Regions from separate parts of the Homo sapiens genome. Here region 2 is linked to region 1. Evidence: fine-mapped expression QTL. Tissue or cell type: whole blood. Region 1 holds a variant in brackets; the other region holds the start of a gene. All regions are shown on one strand. Distances are between the middles of the regions. Region 1 overlaps LOC124901866. Region 2 holds the start of ERI1 (exoribonuclease 1).

Region 1 (9,429 bases):
TACAAAGGTCACACTCCTATGCACACATCTGATTGGTCTCGCAAAGCTAACAATCAGAGGGTAAAGCGAAGTTACAAAGTTGCTCTTCTATGCAAACCAAGACTTGGCTGGCAATCAGAGATTGGTCTTGGAAAGCTAACAGTCAGAGGCTAAAGTAAAGTTTCAAAGTTACACTCCTATGCAAACGTCTGATTGGTTGCAATCAGAGGTACTTTCAATTTCCCATCTGCCCGAGCAGAAAAGACGGGTTTGCAAAGGGAGTAGCCTCTGGTCCTTGTCACTTAGGTGTGGAAAGTTAGGGTTTTCCTTCCAGGGCCTATTGTTCTACCTCAGGAAGACTGATTGAGCTAAAGAGCGAGGCTGCTTTGAGCCATGATCACGCCACTGCACTCAAGCCTGGGTGACAAAGCAAGACCCTGCCTAGCAAAAAAAAAGAAAAAGAAAAAGATATAACTCTTTCTCCAACAGGAACATTATGAATTTTATTCACTGACTTGAGATTTGAGTCCAAGAAGGAAGGTGAAGTTGCTGAAAAACCAGACTCACTTAAAAGTCAAAAGCCGAGCCAGGCATAGTGGCTCACACCTGTAATCCCAGCATTGTGGGAGGCCAAAGTAGTTGGATCACCTGAGGTCAGGAGTTCAAGACCAGCCTGGCCAACATGGTGAAAACGCGTCTCTACTAAAAATACAAAAATTAGCCTGTCATGGTGACAGGTGCCTGTAATCCCAACTACTTGGAAGTCTGAGAATTGCTTGAACCCGAGAGGTGGAGGTTGCAGTGAGCTGAGATCACACCATTTCACTCCAGCCTGGGTGACAAGAATGAAACTCCGTCTAAAAAAAAAAAAGAAAAAAGAAACAAAAAAGTCTAAAGCTGGTAAACTAATCCCAATGAGAAGCTTGGCATTGAAATGATGAGTTTATTCACAGAGAAAAAGAGCAAAGTCTCCAAAAGTTTTCTAGGCATTTTATAACTGAGCTGGCCCCAAGTGCAGGTGCAGGAGCTCTTAGAAGCTCAGCCACGGGGAATAACACTGCAGGAAATACATGTCCAGGGATGAGCTGAATGAAATGGGTGGGATGGGATCCAGTATCCCATCTCTTCAACTTCGAACAGCTGCCCGCCTGTAGAAACCGTTGCAAGCTAGCTTGAGGACAGTATCCCTTCTGCAGGGCTGCATGCCGTTTGCTTGTCTGGCAATCCCATAACTCATAGGCAGATGCTGTATGCCATATACCAAATAGCAAAGTGGAGATGTGCAGGGTAGGAAAACTGGATTGCGAGGAAGGAGATGAGGCAATCATTCTCAACCTTGGCTGCACGACAGAATCTCTCGGGAAGACTTTATAAAATATGAATGCCAGGGCCCATTCCTATGGTGTTCTTTTTTTCTTGATAAATGTTAGCAATGGTTTTATTAGTCTTATGTCCTTGCTTTTGTGTACTATCTGTCCCCAGGGAGATTATTTTTGAGAATTACCCCTAAATTTTCATTGTTTTCTCCCTTCAAATTCAGTGCTTGTGAGACACATTATGAAAAAGAGAAGCGACTCCGCGTTTGTTTAATGCATTGCTTCCTCCACTTAACCTCTTGCTTATTGGAGCTAAAAGCAGATTCTGTAGTCCTTATCCCCTAGTGGCTCTAATCCCCACTCTCCTAACCAGGAATTTACCATTGTAGTTTCAATGCAATGGCCGTTTCATTTTCTTTTTCCATCCTAATCCAGTAGTTAGCTTAACTTGCTCTACAGTGAAATACACGCATGGTATTCTGACTTAATTGACCGAGTGCATGACCCTGGCATCAAAAATTTTTAAAGGCTGATAAGGTGATTCTAATGTGCATTTGGGGTGGAGAATACCAATCTGGCAGCTGGAAACAAAAGAAGAGTGAACATTTTCCCACTGGGCGCTTCCAGAAAGTAATTAAATACATATAAGTGCTGGGAAAAAAGGAGGCTAAGTCCTGAGATATTAACTAGTTATATGATGTTGAGCTGGCTATCTTATCTAAGACTCAGTGTCATCTTTAAAAGGAGGGAAACTATAGCACCAGCCATATACAGGTGTGAAGATTAAATGAGCTAGTATGTGTAAATCACTTAGCATGGTGCTTGACAGTGCCCAACAGACAGGCCCAAGGCATAGTGGCTCATGCATGTGGTCCCAGCGCTTTGGGAAGCTGAGGCAGTAGGTTCGTTTGAGCCCAGGAGGTTGAGGCTGCAGTGAGCCATGATCGTGCCACTGCATTCCAGCCTGGGAGACAGAGAGAGACTGCATCCCCCCCAAAAAAAAAAAAAAAACAGTTGGCTGGGCACGGTGGTTCATGCCTGTAATCCCAGCATTTTGGGAGGCCGAGGTGGGCGGATCACCAAGGTCAAGAGTTCAAGACCGGCCTGACCAACATGGCAAAACCCCGCCTCTACTAAAAATACAAAAATTAGGCTGGGCACTATGGCTCATGCCTGTAATCTCAGTACTTTGGGAGGCCAAGGCGGGTGGATCACAAGGTCAGGAGATCAAGATCGTCCTTGCCAACATGGTGAAATCCCATCTCTACTAAAAATACAAAAATTAGCCATGCGTGGCTGTGCACACCTGTAGTCCCAGCTACTTGGGAGACTGAGGCAGGAGAATTGCTTGAACTCGGGAGGTAGAGGTTGCAGTGAGCCAAGATTATGCCACTGCACTCCGGCCTGGGCGACAGAGCAATACTCCTTCTCAAAAACAAACAAACAAAGTGCCCAGTAAATGACTGGTGTTTCGTCATCATCCTCATTGTCATTTTAGAGAATAAAAACATTGGATTAGAAGTTTATATACAACATATTTGCCTCCATAAATAAGTGCAAATTCTGAAATTCAAAGCAAAAAATTTTTTAAAAATCATTTTATATTTGCTGAGAGCTTTTCCTTTGAACATAGATTGGGGGAGGCAGTTTCATGGATTTCCATGTTCATAACTGGATCTGTCCCCAGTCTTTTTCTGGCATTCCCAGCCTTGAACCGCGTCTTGTTAATCCTCCTCCACAAAAGCCCATACTAGCTTTTATTTATTTTCTCTCAGAATATTCCATGTCTATAATTTCTGTTGATTTATGCTCTATAAATACTAATTCCAGACTTGTGTAGCCAGCACTTTCTGGCCCCAAGCGCTCCACAAAATGGACTCAGATTGTCTTCTTGTATAACGCACAGTCTACCAGTTTGGTGAAAGGTGATAAAGTGATCTGTGGAGCTCAGATGGAAAGAAGCGTCTGGGAGAGCCAGGCTCCTAATCACTTAAATCCTTTCCAAACGTGGGGAGGGGGGTGGTGCGAGGGAGAATGAGAGCAGACAAAGCTGGCTGTCATTGCTATGATTAGGCTTTCGCTCTAAGCCTCCAGAGAGTTGTGAGCTGGGGTAAATGATGTGAAGGATTCATTTCGCCTGGATAGAGATAGGCTCAAGGAGCTGCACCAGTAAAAGTGGGATGAACGGCGTCTTAGACTCCCTTTCCTCTAAGCCCAGCGCAAGCCACAGCCTCGTGAACAGCTCAATGTAATAAGACAAATCCAAGGAAAAAGAAGGAATACGCTTCCTCCTGAGAGCTAGATTGGAGTGTCTCTAATCCCCTCAAACTGTTATCTGTCAGGAATCTTATTTGTGAGCAACAGAATCCAACTCCAATAACTTTGGAAGGAAGAAATTTAGCAGAAGGCTATTCAGGAGCTCCGGCTCGTGCTGAGCAGATG[G/A]GAGAAGCAGGCTTAAAGTCAAAGCTTTGGTGGCAGGCAGGAGCAGAAGTCAGTCAGTGAGGACACCAGTGCAGTGGGCATTGGACACAAGACCACAATGCTCACCATGGCTGATGCTGGCACGAGATAGTGGTTGCTGATGCAGGCATCGCTACCTCTGCACTTGGGAACTTGCCAGTACTCCCCCATCTGCCACCAACCACCTATCCGTGGTTTCGCCACCACCCACCTATCCGTGGTTTCTCCACCACCCTGCTTCCTGGGATGCAGCAACCCCCAAACAGATGCAGTTTTGGGCCAGCGTTATGGAAGAGAAAGCAAATCCCCCAAATGTCTGAATCACAAACACAGAGACCTCACCCCCGTGACAGTGGAAACAAATGCCCTGGCCTCTGACCCCTACAGATCCGCGTTCCTGCCCCTAAACGGTGCAGTGAGGGGAGAGCTGGGCTGCAGAACAGGTGGAGAGAAGAACGTGGTGTGTCCCCTAGGGGTCAGTGCTAGGACATATTGTCTCCAGGGTCTCGTGCCTTTCTGTTTGGTTGAGGGCAACATTTCTCAGAAGTATGTGGATACCTGGGATTTTAAGAGGGTATCATGGCAACTCTTTCACTCTCTAGTTTTAGAGGTGATCTTGACAAATGTCTCTCACCTGAGAGCCTTTGAGTATGTACCAACTAACCATATGGAGCAATTGGGGGATCAGATAAAAAGGCTGATGACACGGTCACTCTATTGAGTTAGCACCAGCTGAGCACAACAGCCCACCATGTTGTCTCTGACTACCATGGAGCATGGCAGGCTGCTTGTTGTCACCCCACATCCATTTTCCCCTTCTTCATTAGAAAATGGTGAGCCAGCTAAAAATTGTATTTCCCAGTCTTCTTCTTCTCCTCCTCCTCCTTCTTTTCCTCCCTCCTCCCTCCTCCCTTTCCCCTTCACCTCCCCTCCCCCTTCACCCTCCCCAACCCCTTCTCTTCCCCCTTGTTCTCCTTCTCCCCCTCCTTCTCCTTCTCCTTCTTCTGACAGGGTCTTGCTTTTTCACCCAAGCTAGAGTGCAGTGGTGCAATCATGGCTCACTGAAGCCTCAACCTACTGGCTTAAACGATCCCTCCACATCAGCCTCCCAAGCAGCTGGGACTACAGGCACACACCACCACGCCTGGCTGGTTGTTAGATTTTTTTGCAGATATGTGGTTTTTGCCCGAGCTGGTCTTGAACTCCTGTTCTCAAGTGATCGTCCCACCTCAGGCATCCAAAGTGCTGTGAATATAGGTATGAGCCATCACACCCTGCCTACCCCAGCCTTTTTTACAGCTAGGTGTGGCCATCCAGCTAAGTTTTCATCAGTGAATTGTGAGAGGAAATAATGCACGAAATTTTGATTTCAGCCGGGCTCAGTGGCTCACGCCTATGATCCCAACACTTTGGGAGGCTGAAGCTGGCAGGTGGATCACTTGAGCTCAAGACTTCAAGATCAGTCTGTCCAACATGGTGAAACCCCATCTCTACTACAAATACAAAAATTAGCCAGGCGTGGTGGCACACGCCTGTAATCCCAGCTACTGGGGAGGCTGAGGCAGGAGATTCACTTGAACCCGGGAGGTGGAGGTGGCAGTGAGCCGAGATCACTCTACTGCACTCCAGCCTGGGCAACAAAGTGAGACTCCATCTCAAAAAAAAAAAAAATTCTTTTTTGGTCTTACTTCCTTAAAACACTCCCCAAAACTTGGCCTTTACTTCCCCCCAAATTGTTACAGATTTTCATTTTTTCCCTTTCTTGAATCAGAAAATAGCTATGTTTGCTGCTTGACTTTGATTATGTAGATTAATTCATAGCCCTAGGTCAGTTTTTTTGTTTTGTTTTTTTGTTATTTTTTTTTTTTTTTAGATGGAGTCTCGCTCTTTCACCCAGGCTGGAGTGCAGTGATTTGATCTCAGCTCACCGCAACCTCCACCTCCTGGGTTCAAGAGATTCTCCTGCCTCAGCTTCCCAAGTAGGTGGGATTATAGGCTCGCACCACCACGGCCAGCTAATTTTTGTATTTTTAGTAGAGACAGGGTTTTGCCACATTGGCCAGGATGGCCTCAAACTCCCGACCTCAAGTGATCTGCCTGCCTCAGCCTTCCAAAGTGCTGGGATTACAGGCATGAGCCACCGTGCCCAGCCCAGGAGCTGTTAATCAGGGTTTTATGAATACTCAAGGAATTTGGGGATATAAACCATGTGGGTTAATGAAGTTAAATCAGGGAAAAAAAGTCTTCATTTCAATTTAACTCTAACTGAAATTGTGTTTTTCAATTATGAATACAGGAAAGTAACCACAGTATTAAGAGTACAGGTAACTTTGTGACCAATAGAAAGGTATTTTTATTTCACATTTCAGCTGAAGATATCTCAAAATATTATTTGTGCTCTTCACCAGTTTGAAATTGTGATACGAGACAATTTGACCCTACTAGATCTTTCTATTTAATGTATTAATAAAGAAGCAAATATATTAGTAATTCACACATTTGCTTTATAAGCATTGTGATGAATATATTTCAATATAATTGCTATCTTTTATAATCCTATACATTTTCTTTTATATCTTTGAAAAAATTATTCTGAGGCTAGGCATGGTGGCTCTCACCTGTAATCCAAGCACTATGGGAGGCCGACATGGGAGGATGACTTGAGGCCAGGAGTTTGAGACCAGCCTGGTCAACATAGCAAGACCTTATCTGTATTAAATAATAATAATAATGATAAAAAGAAAAAAATTATTCTGAGATAGTCCATAAGCTTCACCAGACTGTCAAAGGGGACCTTGTCACAAAAAACTTAAGAAGCAACATGGTTTCTTTTTTCTAGTCATTCTGTCTCATGGGATGGCAGAACAACTGGCTCTCAGAATACATGCGGAACAGATCTCACCCTCAATGAAACCACTCACCTACAGACGTTAAATAAGAGAGAAATAAACCTTATGATCTTTAAGCCATGCATTTTATGGTATTTTTGTTATAGAAGCTTAAAAAATACTCCAACCATACATATAAAGTTATTTTATTCTCACTTTCTTGTTTTAAAATTCATATCAACATCATTCGTTAAAGGTAAGAAGCATACAGATGTCAAAATCCAACAACTTGCTGAGGATTATTAAAATGATAATAATTATGCAAATTTATTTCAAGGAGATATTTGCAGTTTGTATGTTGTATTCATCTCAACAAAAGTGTTATTTAGCACAACAAAATACTTCTTGTACTTCAAAATATATTAAGAGAGAAAATATGGTGCCTATTAAATTTAATTTGACTTCTTATTTATCAAAAGTAAACATTAGCACCTGAAATACGTTGTTTGCACAGAAATACCTGTATTTAGAAGCTTGAAATATTTCCTCTGAATTGATAACTTAGAAACAAAACATGGAAATTATAGTAAGTGAATTTCCTATTTAATGTGCTAAAGGCAATCTGTTTATACAGTAGTATGCAATTTTAAATTTTAAACCAGTTTTTAATATATGTTTGATCCTAAGGCTAAATATCATATATATTCTTCTTGAATTAATTTGTTTATAAAGCATGTTTTTGCTACTTAATTAATTAATTAATTATTCTGGATGGACTGTCACTGTTAGCTGGAGTGCAGTGGCGCCATCTCGGCTCACCGCAACTTCCACCTCCCGGGTTCAAGTGATCATGCCTCAGCCTCCTGAGTAGCTGGGATTACAGGCATGTGCCACCATGCTTGGCTAATTTTTGTATTTTTAGTAGAGATGGGGTTTTGCCATGTTGGCCAGGCTGGTATTGAACTCCCGACCTCAAATGATCCACCTGCCTCAGCCTCCCAAAGTGCTGGGATTACAGGCATAAGCCACTGTGCCCAACCTGATTTAAATGAATAGTATGTATCAATTGTTAAGTGGGAAAAAAACTAAATGTTTCTATATATTTTAAATATTACTACACATTATATAAAAGTGAACTCATATGCTAATTGAAAATACACTTTATACTTGAAATTACTTAATATTGTATGCCCTGCAAAGTTGATAGAATTTTTTTTAGTTGTCTTTTTGCATCCCTTGGCTATGCTATAATGCGGCTTTGAGGATCAAATAAGGAGCTTGAGAGCATTGAAAGTACCACCAAGTTGAGAGGGGGAAGACCTCATATGCAGGAGAGGATTAACTTTGCCCATACAGGGGTCTGGCCTTTGCCCTCAGCTCCTGGAAGATAATCTCTAAACCACTGGAATATCCTGCTTGATAAGAATGTTTACCTGAGGACTTTGGAACAAGCTCCATAACCTATGCTAACAATGTAATCGATAATGCAGGCTTTGGGCCACACAGCTCCAGCTCAGCCTCCGGAAGGGCTGGAAACTGACCATGTCGATGTGACAGAACCCCAGTAAAAACTGTGGACATTGAGGCTCAGGTGAGCTTCTCTGGGTGGCAATTCATGCATATCCTCACACATCACTGCTGAGTTAGTTCTCCACTGGGAAAGAACAACTGGAAGCTTTGCACGTGGAGCTCTCCTGGACTCTTCCCCATATGCCTCTTCCCTCAGTTTATTTATTTATTTAGAGACAGAGTTTCACTCTTGTCGCCCAGGCTGGAGTGCAGTGGCGCAATCTCAGCTCACTGTAACCTCTGCCTCCCAGGTTCAAGCAATTCTCCTGCCTCAGCCTCCCAAGTAGCTAGAATTACAAGCATGTGCCACCACCAGCACACCTGGCTAATTTTTTTGTGTTTTTGTAGAGATGAAGTTTCACCATTTTGGCCAGGCTGGTCTCGAACTCCTGACCTCAGGTGATCTGCCTGCCTTGGCCTCCCAAAGTGCTGGGATTACAGGTGTGAGCCACCACGCCCCGCCCCCTCAGCTGATTTAAATTTGCATTCTTTCACTGTGATAAGCCACAACTGTGAGTATAACAGCTTTCAGTGAGTTCTGTGAGTCCTTCCAACAGATTGTCAAATCTGTGGGTGGTCTTGAGGATCCCTGAACTTGCAGTTAGTATCTGAAGTGAAAGTGGCCTTGGGGCCTCCTGAACTTCACGCCTGGCTTCTAGTCCTGACTGCCCCTAACTCTAGTTATCAACAAATCTCCATTTGCCTCCAAGCCACAGTGTCTGCTGGTTCTCTGCCAAACTCCCACCCTTCTCTGCCTTCCTTTGTGTCATTGCCTATGTTCCCTAACTCCAGGGGAAGATGAGCAGGTGCGAGACAGGGAGAAGCCATCCTACTTCTGGCTCCAGCGGCAGCGGTACCAGTGACTGTATACAACAGGGGGCCCGAGAAGCATCTGAGGCTCCAGCGGAGACACAGGATTGGCTTCCGCTCCCCAGCAGTGGGGACGTCTCCAGACATTCAGCAGCTCCAGCCCGGGGACTGCTGCAGCTTCTACCCTCTGGGTAACACCCCTCTTCTCTCTTTTGCTCTTCTAGCATACCCCACACCTTTGTCAACATCCCCTGAATTAATTCTCTCTCTGCGTTCAGTTTTCCTGAAAGGGGAAATCCCCCTTTTCTGTATAAGGGGAATAATAATAATTGTATCTGTTCTCTGTATCACTCAGAGCTGTTGTGAGCATCCACTGCTAATGGTTGATTGGTTGCTTTAAGGTTAATAAAGAATCACCTAATTTCACACTATTATGATCATGCAAATAGGGGCGTTTGCATCACAAA
Region 2 (9,429 bases), 29 kb after region 1:
ATCGGCCAGGCAAGGTGGCTCATGCCTGTAATCCCAGCACTTTGGGAGGCCAAGGCGGGTAGGTCACCTGAGATCAGGAGTTTGAGAGTTTCGCTTGGCCAACATGGTGAAATCCCACCTCTACTAAAAATACAAAAATTACCCAGGTGTGGTGGCAGGCGCCTGTAATCCCAGCTACTTGGGAGGCTGAGGCATGAGAATCTCTTGAACCCAGGAGGCTGAGGTTGCAGTGAGCCAAGATAGCGCCATTGCACTCCAGCCTGGGCTACAGAGCGAGACTCTGTCTCAAAAAATAAATAAATAAATAAATAAATAAAAACATTTAGGTCTCCTGCATACTGATGTCACACAGTCATAAGAAAGTACTGAACACAGTGATATTTCTTAAACATTTTGGGTACACTCCCAGCTCAGGATCTTTTCACTTGTTTACTCTGCCTAAACTTCTCTTCTCCCATATATACTCAGTTTACTCCCTTGCCTCTTCAAGTCTTTACACAAATGGCACATCATTAGAGAGGTCTTCCCTAACGATTCTATTTAAAATTGTAACCCCCTCCATACCTGGGCACCCTCCCATTCCCTTTTCCTGTTTTACTTTTCTCCATACTATAAGCATTTTACTTATTTCTTTTGTTGATTGCCTGTCTTTCTTTTTCTTTCCTTCCCTCCCTCCCTCCTTCCCTTCCTTCCTTCCTTCTGTAGAGATGAGGTTTCACCATGTGGCCAGGTTGGTCCTGAGCTTAAGTGGTCCTCGCACCTCAGCCTGGCAAACTGCTGGGATTACAGGTGTGGGCCATCACGCCTGGCCTTACAGTAAATTCTTGATAAACAACCCAGCAACTGCCTCTTTCCTTTAAAAATTCACTTGTAGCTTCTACTGATCTGAGTATACCCAGGGCAACTTGAATCTACAATTGCAATCCTCAAACTTGGCCCAGATAAACTCTACTTATATTAATTTTGCCTCATCTTCCTTTTCGGTTATTTCATGCATGTTTCACTTTGTTCAACCTTTAATAGCTCAAACCAGAGTCTAAAGACAAAAAAAGTTACTGCACGATAGTAATTTTCATGTAGCTATTTTCATCTAGCTTGTATTTTTTTTTTTTTTTTTTTTTTACTATTTTTTGACTGACTTCGACTATTTTCACCTAGCTAGGATTTTTCAGAAGGGACATTCTTTAACTGTGTCTCACAATCCAATTTCCTCAGAGAAACTTCTTGGAGTTTCCCCAGCACAGCTGCTCATCATAGGCTTCATGGACAAAAGCCTCACTACTTATTAGAGTATCTTCTTCTGGGTCTTTTTATTTATGGCAGGTCTAATTTCTTGATGCTGCTGCACTAGTTCTAGAAGTCAAAGAAACAAAGTCAAAAGAGTTGTTTCTTGAGATAGAAGCTGAGATGGAGGTATGTATGGTTAGAAAGGGCTACTTAACCCCATCAAAGATTATTGTTATTGGAATTATGCCCTATCTCAATTGCCTATTTAACAAAGCAAATAATCTAGAATGGGCAAGACTTAAGACAATTATGATTGGTTACTAAGTGTTCACTTAACTTCCAAACTGGCATATCTTCTGAGTAGATGGATTCAGCACAACTTCAATTCTATGCTCCTGGGTTGCAATCCTCAAACTTGGACCAAATAAACTCTCTAGTTATATTAATTTTGCCTCAGCTTCTACCTTTTAGGTCAATAGTATTAAGCCTCTTCAAGTGGTCCTGAAGTATTAAGCCTCTTTAAGTGGTTACTGAAGCTGTATTCATCTTTTTTCTGTGTGTGTGTGTGTCATTTTGTATTGTTTCTGTTGCTATATCTTTGAATTTATTTACCTTTTTCTCTGCATTGCTTAATGCGCTAGCAATCCCATCCAAAGAAATTTTTATTTCAAATATTTTTCACCTCCATCCAGAAATTTGATTTTTCAAAAATCTTTCCAGTTTCTCTCCTATCATGTCTTCCTTTAAATCTTTGAGCATATTCATAACAGGTGTTTAAAATCCTTGTCTGTTAATTCCATCATTTTTATCATTTTGGGGTTTGTTTCTATGAACTTCGTGAGATATTTTCTTACCACTTGGTCTCTCTCTCTCTCTTTTGAGACAGAGTCTTACCCTGTCACCCAGGCTGGGTTGTGGTGGTGCAATCATAGGTCACTGCAGCCTCAAACTCCTGGGCTCAAGCAATCCTCCCGCCTCAGCATCCCCAAGTGCTGCGTGTCTTTCAATTTTTGACTGGATGTCTCACATTTTGAATTTAATGTTGTTGAATCCTGGATTTTACTGTAGTCTTTCAGAGAGTTTTAGAATTTGTTCTTACAGGTAATTAGGTTACTTACAGAGCAGTTTGATCCTTTCAGGGCTTGTTTTAAGGCTTTTGAAGAATCTACAGTAGTTTATGTTCTGGGTCCTGCAGTCTACGGTTATTATATCTCACTAAGGCATGACACTTTCGTAACCACCCAAAAGGTTCATCTTGCCTACTGCCTAGACAGAGTCGATTTATCAAGACAGGGGAATTGCAATAAAGAGCAATTCATGCAGAGCTGGCAGTGCAGGAGACCTGAGTTTTATTAATCAAATCAGTCTCCCTGAGCATTTGGGGATCAGAGTTTTTAAGGATAATTGGGTGGGTGAGAAGCCAGTGAGATGGGAGTGGTGACTGGTTGGGTAGGAGATGAAATCATAGGGAGTCGATGCTGTCCTCTTGCACTGAGTCAGTTCCTCCCGTGGGGGACACAAAATCAGATGAGCTAGTTTATCCAAGATCAGGTGAGTCAGTTTATCAATCTGGGAGGTGCCAGCTGATCCATCAAGTGCAGGGCCTGCAAAATATCTCAAGCACTGATCTTAGATTTTACAATAGTGATATTATCCCCAGGAGCAATTTGGAGAGGGTTAGAATCTTGTAGCCTTCAGCTGCATGAGTCCTAAATCATAATTTCTAATCTTTCGGCTAATTTACTAGTCCTACAAAAGCAGTCTAGTCTCAAGAAGAGGGTTTATTTTGAGAAAGGGCTATCACCTTTGTTTTAAACTATAAGCTATACACTAAGTTCCTCCCAGTGTTAGTTTGGCCTACGCCTAGGAATGAATAAGGATAGCCTGGAGGTTAAAAGCAAGATGGAGTTGGTTAGGTCTGATCTCTTTCACTGTCTCAATGATAATTTTGCAATGGCAGTTTCACATCTGAGGTTTCTATTGCGTGTTCCATGGTATTCAATAATCTCTTCACTCTGGTTGCTGGGAGCTCAAATGATTCCCAGTTCTGTGTGACCTCTCACCATTGTTTGGTGTACTGCTCCCCAGTAATTGTTCTTTCCTGGCCTTGTGGAGTTTCACGTTTTTTATTCAGTTAAAGATTCAAGGTACTCCTAAGCAGATTTCTGAAGCTCTTTTTCCATGTAATTCCCTCCTCTCCAGAATTCTGCCCTACAAATTCCAACCGACTTGGCCTACCCCAATTTCGTCAACTCCAATCTCTGTCTTTTCAACCCAGGAGATCCTAGGTTTCCATATGATTTCCTTTCATCGCACCACAGACTGGAAATCGCCTCTGGGCAAAAGGGCAGGATGATATACGGCTCCTTTTATTTCTTTTCTCTCAGGTAAAACAGTCCACAGCTGTCCGTTGTCCAATGTCTGAATAGGTGTCTCCTATATTTTGTTCCGTTTTCTAATTGTTTATAGTGGGACACTAAGTCCCGACCCATTTTCTTTTCTTGCCCAGAGTGGAAGTTTTAGGAAACTCCTTATGGAAAATGTGAATTGTTTTATTATTTTTTATGGTCGAAAACATCTTTCTCTATGATATCTTCCCACTCACCCTACTTTTTTCCTTCTCAGGAAACACTGACGGGAACACACGTGCCGGTGCTACCCTCCAGTGACTGGACTAGATCCTTGCGCAACTTCAACCCGCGCTAGCTCCGCCTACGGCCGGCCACGCCCCGTCTTCTCACCGGCGCGCCTCCCTCTTGTTCGTCCTCCCTCCCCCTGTGGACTGCGGCGCTGGCGTTCCGCGCACGCCGGCTCACTGCGCCTGCCCGGCGTGTGGACGCCACACGCTCCCGGAAGTGGGAGGTGGCCGCTGGAGTTTGTGTGGCCGCCGCCGCGGGAACGCGAGCCCGGTAATTTTTCAACGGAGAAAGGCGAGGCTTTCGGGCTCTGCAGAGTGAGAGTTAGCAAGTGTCCGGCTCCAGCAACTCTCCTCTGGCGTGACAGCCGGCATGGAGGATCCACAGAGTAAAGAGCCTGCCGGCGAGGCCGTGGCTCTCGCGCTGCTGGAGTCGCCGCGGCCGGAGGGCGGGGAGGAGCCGCCGCGTCCCAGTCCCGAGGTGAGGAGTCGACCCGCGCCTGGCTGTTGGCGCCAGCTGCCCCGTCCCCAAAGCGCCCTCGGCACCCCTTTCTTCTCAGGTGTCCCGCAGAAGGTGCAGCTGTGCGCCCTTGGACCCCAGCCTCTTCCTCGGTGCCCAGCTCCCTGGCTTTATCCTCGGGTGGGTGTCTTGGAGCCCCCTCAGGGCCGAATCACTCTCTGGGAGGGAGGAAATCGTCAAGACCAGTTCTGTCTACAGTGGGTTAACAGGTTCTAAGAGGGAGTTTTGCTTTAAACTTAATTCTGTGTTCACGGTTGCTGTTGTCACTCCATGTAGCCGTTATGGGTAGTTTGCAAGGCTTTATGTTTTTAAAATCTCACCATATACGCTAGGTATGTCACTTCATGCCTGTTTTTAAAAAAAGAAAAAATTTAAAAAGCACTCACCAGCATCCCTGTCTCTGTACCTGTTAAGTGGAGCTTCGTCTTAGCTGCTTTTGCTCATTAACTGGTGTCTCATATAACCATAGTATAAGATTGAATGAATCATTTTGACATCTCATCGGTTGAACTTAGTTACAGTGGCAAAGTTGTAGAACAGTCTTAAAACTTATTTAACGAATGTTAATTGTTGACTAGCGCTGCGGATTGTAAGTGATTGAATACTAAAATTGATCTTTTCCTAATAATAAACATGTTGAACACTTCGTAAAGCTTCATAAAGTGCGTATTTGCAAGAGGCCTCCTAACTCTTGCTCCTTCCGTCCACAGTCAGTTTCCATCTGGCAGCTAGAATGAGCTTTTCAATAACATGAATTTGGCTTATTCCCCTCCTGAGTCACTTCCATTTGCTGCTCTGCGGGGTCGGGTGCCTGCCTCCCTTGGTAATTGCATCTCACACAGTTTTTTCCCTTTTGTTCCCAGTGCCCCTCGCTGCCTTGTGTTCTTTGACATTGGAAAGAAGGTCTCGTTAAGGATCTCTGTATGTTCCTTTTGCCCTGTGTGCACTTCCTTTGGATCCTTGCAATTATCTTTCTCCTTCTAAGGTTGTTATTTCAAAGAGTACTTGCACATCCCTTCTCTTGTAAAGAACCACTCTTCCACCTGCCTCCCTCTTCAGCCTGAGATACGTTGTCAATCTCATCCTGTAAGTGGGTTTTAAAATAAATTTCGAAGTTTATTTTTAGTAAAAGAAGTGTGTTTGAATATGCTTCTTTATATTTGAAAGTCTTGACACTTTTACAGCTACTTAAGGCCTAGGTCTCTGTTCCAAATTGGCTTTAGTGACGGTAGTAATTGTTAAAAACTTACTGTTGCATGCTCTTTATAGTGATACTTTTTTTTTTTTTTTTTTTTTTTTTTACAAAAAGCCGGTCGTAGTTGCCCTCTCCCGTAGTCCCAGCTACTGGGGAGGCTCAGTGGGGAGGATCACCTGAGCCCATGGGTGGAGGCTGCAGTGAGCTGTGATCGTGCCACTGCACTCCAACCTGGGTGACAGAGTGAGACCCTGTCTCAAAAAATAATAGTAATGATACTTTTTTTTTTTTTTTTTTGGAGACGGAGTTTCGTTCTTGTTGCCCAGTCTGGAGTGCAATGGCATGGTCTCAGCTTACTGCAACCTCCCGCCTCCCGGATTCAAGTGATTCTCGTGCCTCAGCCTCCCTAGTAGCTGGGATTACAGGAACCCACCACCACGCTTGGCTAGTTTTTGTATTTTTAGTAGAGATGGGGTTTCACCATGTTGGCCATGCTGGTCTGGAACTCCTGACCTCAGGTGATCCGCCCACCTCGGCCTCCCAAAGTGCTGGGATTACAGGCAATGAGCCACTGCGCCTGGCCATGATACAGTGTTTTTCAATCTGGGCCAAAGTTTTTTGTTGAATTCAGGTGGTAAATTTCCATTATCTCTAATGCTAGTTGTCTTTGTAAACTAGTAGAAGCTATTGCATATTTATATTTTTAATAAGTAGGTTCAGATTTCATCAGAACTCTCCTTTTGGAAGAACGTCAATCAAGAAAAATTCTAAGTTTTTTTTCAGTGTGCAGATGCAGAGGTTTTCCTTTTCTTTTTTTAAAAGGTAGTACCTAGATTTTTGGCAGCAGAATAATAGCATTTCCAGAACATGTTTTCAAAATGTTCTCTATACAGAAAAAGTTTTATTTGACAAGCAGTTACTTTGTAGCTTACTGTTAAAATGTGTTTTCTTTTTTCTTGCAACAACAGATTGTGTTCCTTTAAAAAAATGCTAAAAATCAAGCTCCGGTACCCTTCCCAATAAGAAGAGGACAGCAATTATAGAATACCTGTCTTTTTGTAAAAGAAAATTTGTAACTCATCTTTAAGTTCAACAACAGTTTTTTTATGTTTTTTTTTTTTTTTTTTGAGAGGGAGTCTCTCTCTGTTGCCCAGGCTGGAGTGCAGCGGCTCAGTCTCGGCTCGCTGCAAGCTCCGCCTCACGGGTTCACGCCATTCTCCTGCCTCAGCCTCCTGAGTAGCTGGGACTACAGGCGCCCGCCCGGCTAATTTTTTGTATTTTTAGTAGAGACGGGGTTTCACCGTGGTCTCTATCTCCTGACCTCGTTATCCGCCCGCCTCGGCCTCCCAAAGTGCTGGGATTACAGGCGTGAGCCAACGCGCCCGGCCTCAACGACAGTTTTAAAGTAGTTTGCCACAAGATAGTAAACCTCTGTTTGGTATAGAAGATTTTCATGGCCACATCCCATAATGTAAAAGCTTCTCTTATTTGAGATAATATAAACCATACATCCACTTAATTGAATACGTGAATATTGCAAAATGTTACAGTTCTGTGATGGTGAATGTTTCTCTCCATATTGTGGAATCTATCACTTTTCTCATTATATGGTCCGTATTATATGTGACATGTGATAGGTGGATGTAGTTACTGGTACGGATGCTGATGCAAATGTAAGTATGTATTTCGTAAACTAATTTTGTCTTTCTGCAGATTAACAATACAAGTAGGGTTTTTAGTATTTTCTTTCTGCTCCTTGGCAGATTGATTTGAGCATCCTTCTTTGTGAACCATTAGTGTAGATTTGAAATTTGGGAGGAGACACTGCTTTCTGAGGATTGGACCTCGGCTGTCTCTAGAACTTCACTGAAGGAAGAGAACTAGAGCTGGACCTAGGAAAGGAAGCAAATTTTTCTTTATGGAAGTCATAATTTATAGCATCTATAGAAGAGGCCTAAGTGTTACTTGTGAATAATTTTTCTAGCTACAGTTTAGGATGAGAATTAACCAGTGAATCAGAAAGAGGATTTATCCAAAGAGAAAATCTGCTTAAATTAACTGAGACATCTGTTTTGGTAGACAAACTGTTACTTAATGTTGACCTAAATTTTAACCTGAAATTTACTAAATGATGACTAAAGATGAAGTTTCAAATTCAATGTAAATTTAAAGTCAAAAGATAATTTTTTGTAAAATTCTGGTCAAGCAGAGCAATATCTATTGTAAATCTAATATATTGTTGAAAGTGAATCATTGGTCAACTAGCAATACTTTTTTTTTCCTTAACATTGTTAACAAGGAACCTCAGTGTGGCTGTTCTTTAATTTATGGACAGTTCACACATTGGAACTGCTGACCTCTTCCTCAAAGGAAATGGGTGAGTCACTCTTGAGTACTCTGGCACCTTACCTAGCATTACATTTCCAGTAAATGTGTGTTGCATTAAATTGAGAGCTTAGAGTAAGAAATGGTTCCTGAACCATCAGGATCAGTTCTGAGTTAGGGACTGTGGCCTCTCTGTGATTATCCTTCCTTGATCTATAATTACAGTTTACGTGAGGACAATGTGGTACATTATAACTAAGGTAACAAGCTTTAATAGGGATAATTAGTACTAAATATTTTTCAAAATTATGGAACATAGCTAATATTTGTGATATTGCATGTGGAAAATAACTTACAAATGAATCTTTGGAACTTAACATATTAGTAATTTGAGACTGCCTGTGGAGAAAATAGAATTGAGTCATGTTTTTTCTTAACAGATTTTTATTTATGAAAAAATTCATAATTCTATAGTTCTTCTGGTTAGTGGACCTAAGTACAACTTTTGGAAAATGTAAGTTTTGAAATTAAATACATTTCCTTCTTTGAGTACTAGGAAGCTGTAAATTAGATTTGCGGTCCATTTTGTTTTTATGTTGGGCAATTTTTGTTAACTTTGTGAAATGAAGTCAGGTTAAAAAATTATCAGAAGTTATTACACATGTATAATGTAAAAGTTCATTTAAAAATGGGTTCATTTGTAAATATTAGCATATTGTTTGTGAAGGGCTTGTTGTATAGCCTGTGATATTAATAGTTACCATTTATTAATAGCTACTGTGGGTGTAGGGGTCTGATACACATAATCTCATTTAATCTTTGTAATAATTCTGCCCAAACACTATTTACCATTACCAAATTACCATTTTATAGATAAGGAAATTGAGGATCAGAGGCTAATACGTAGCTATCCAAAGTCATGCTGCTATTTCTAGTAAATAGTCAGCTGGGGTTCTCTATTGAGGTGGTGTTGACTCCCACCACCAGTCTTCTTTTTACTTAGCTTTGTTTCCTTTGAGGAACCTCATGACTCATAATAGAGTGGGGTAAATTGTATTGGAGACGCATCTTCCTTCTTATCCTTTCCTCCGTTTAGGAGCTGCAGTGAACACTTTTCATTGAACATGTAGCATGAAGAGGCTTCAGAAGTTTGAAAGTTTGAATCTTTAAATCTGTGATGTTTGTACTAATTATAAACTACATCCTTTTTTTTTTTTTTTTTTTTTTTTTTTTTGGTAGGAAACTCAACAGTGTAAATTTGATGGCCAGGAGACAAAAGGATCCAAGTTCATTACCTCCAGTGCGAGTGACTTCAGTGACCCGGTTTACAAAGAGATTGCCATTACGAATGGCTGTATTAATAGAATGAGTAAGGAAGAACTCAGAGCTAAGCTTTCAGAATTCAAGCTTGAAACTAGGTAATTAAAAATAACTTATAAAATTATAAAAGTAGTACATGCTCATTTTAGAAAATCTTGAAAACATTGAAATATTAAAAATCATCTGTAATCCTACCGTAATGACATG

The links. PIP is the estimated chance that this variant, and not a neighbour inherited with it, causes the effect.
Region 2: ERI1 starts here. The variant in region 1 is fine-mapped to the expression of ERI1 in whole blood (TOPMed, PIP above 0.99).

What each region holds. Positions count from the first base shown.
Region 1 is chr8:8,970,053-8,979,481 of GRCh38, forward strand. It overlaps LOC124901866, which reads left to right. Exons shown (of 4, transcript XM_047422504.1): 3 at 8,945-9,153. Among named protein-coding and RNA genes, the nearest start is that of ERI1, 28 kb to the right of the region's middle. RefSeq lists an enhancer at 7,847-8,141. The variant G/A (reference allele first, on the strand shown) is at 3,738.
Region 2 is chr8:8,998,829-9,008,257 of GRCh38, forward strand. ERI1 (exoribonuclease 1) reads left to right here and starts at 4,069. Exons shown (of 7, transcript NM_153332.4): 1 at 4,069-4,343; 2 at 9,142-9,320. The coding sequence starts at 4,236. It overlaps LOC105379227 (a long non-coding RNA gene), which reads right to left and starts at 3,914. Exons shown (of 3, transcript XR_002956680.2): 1 at 3,833-3,914.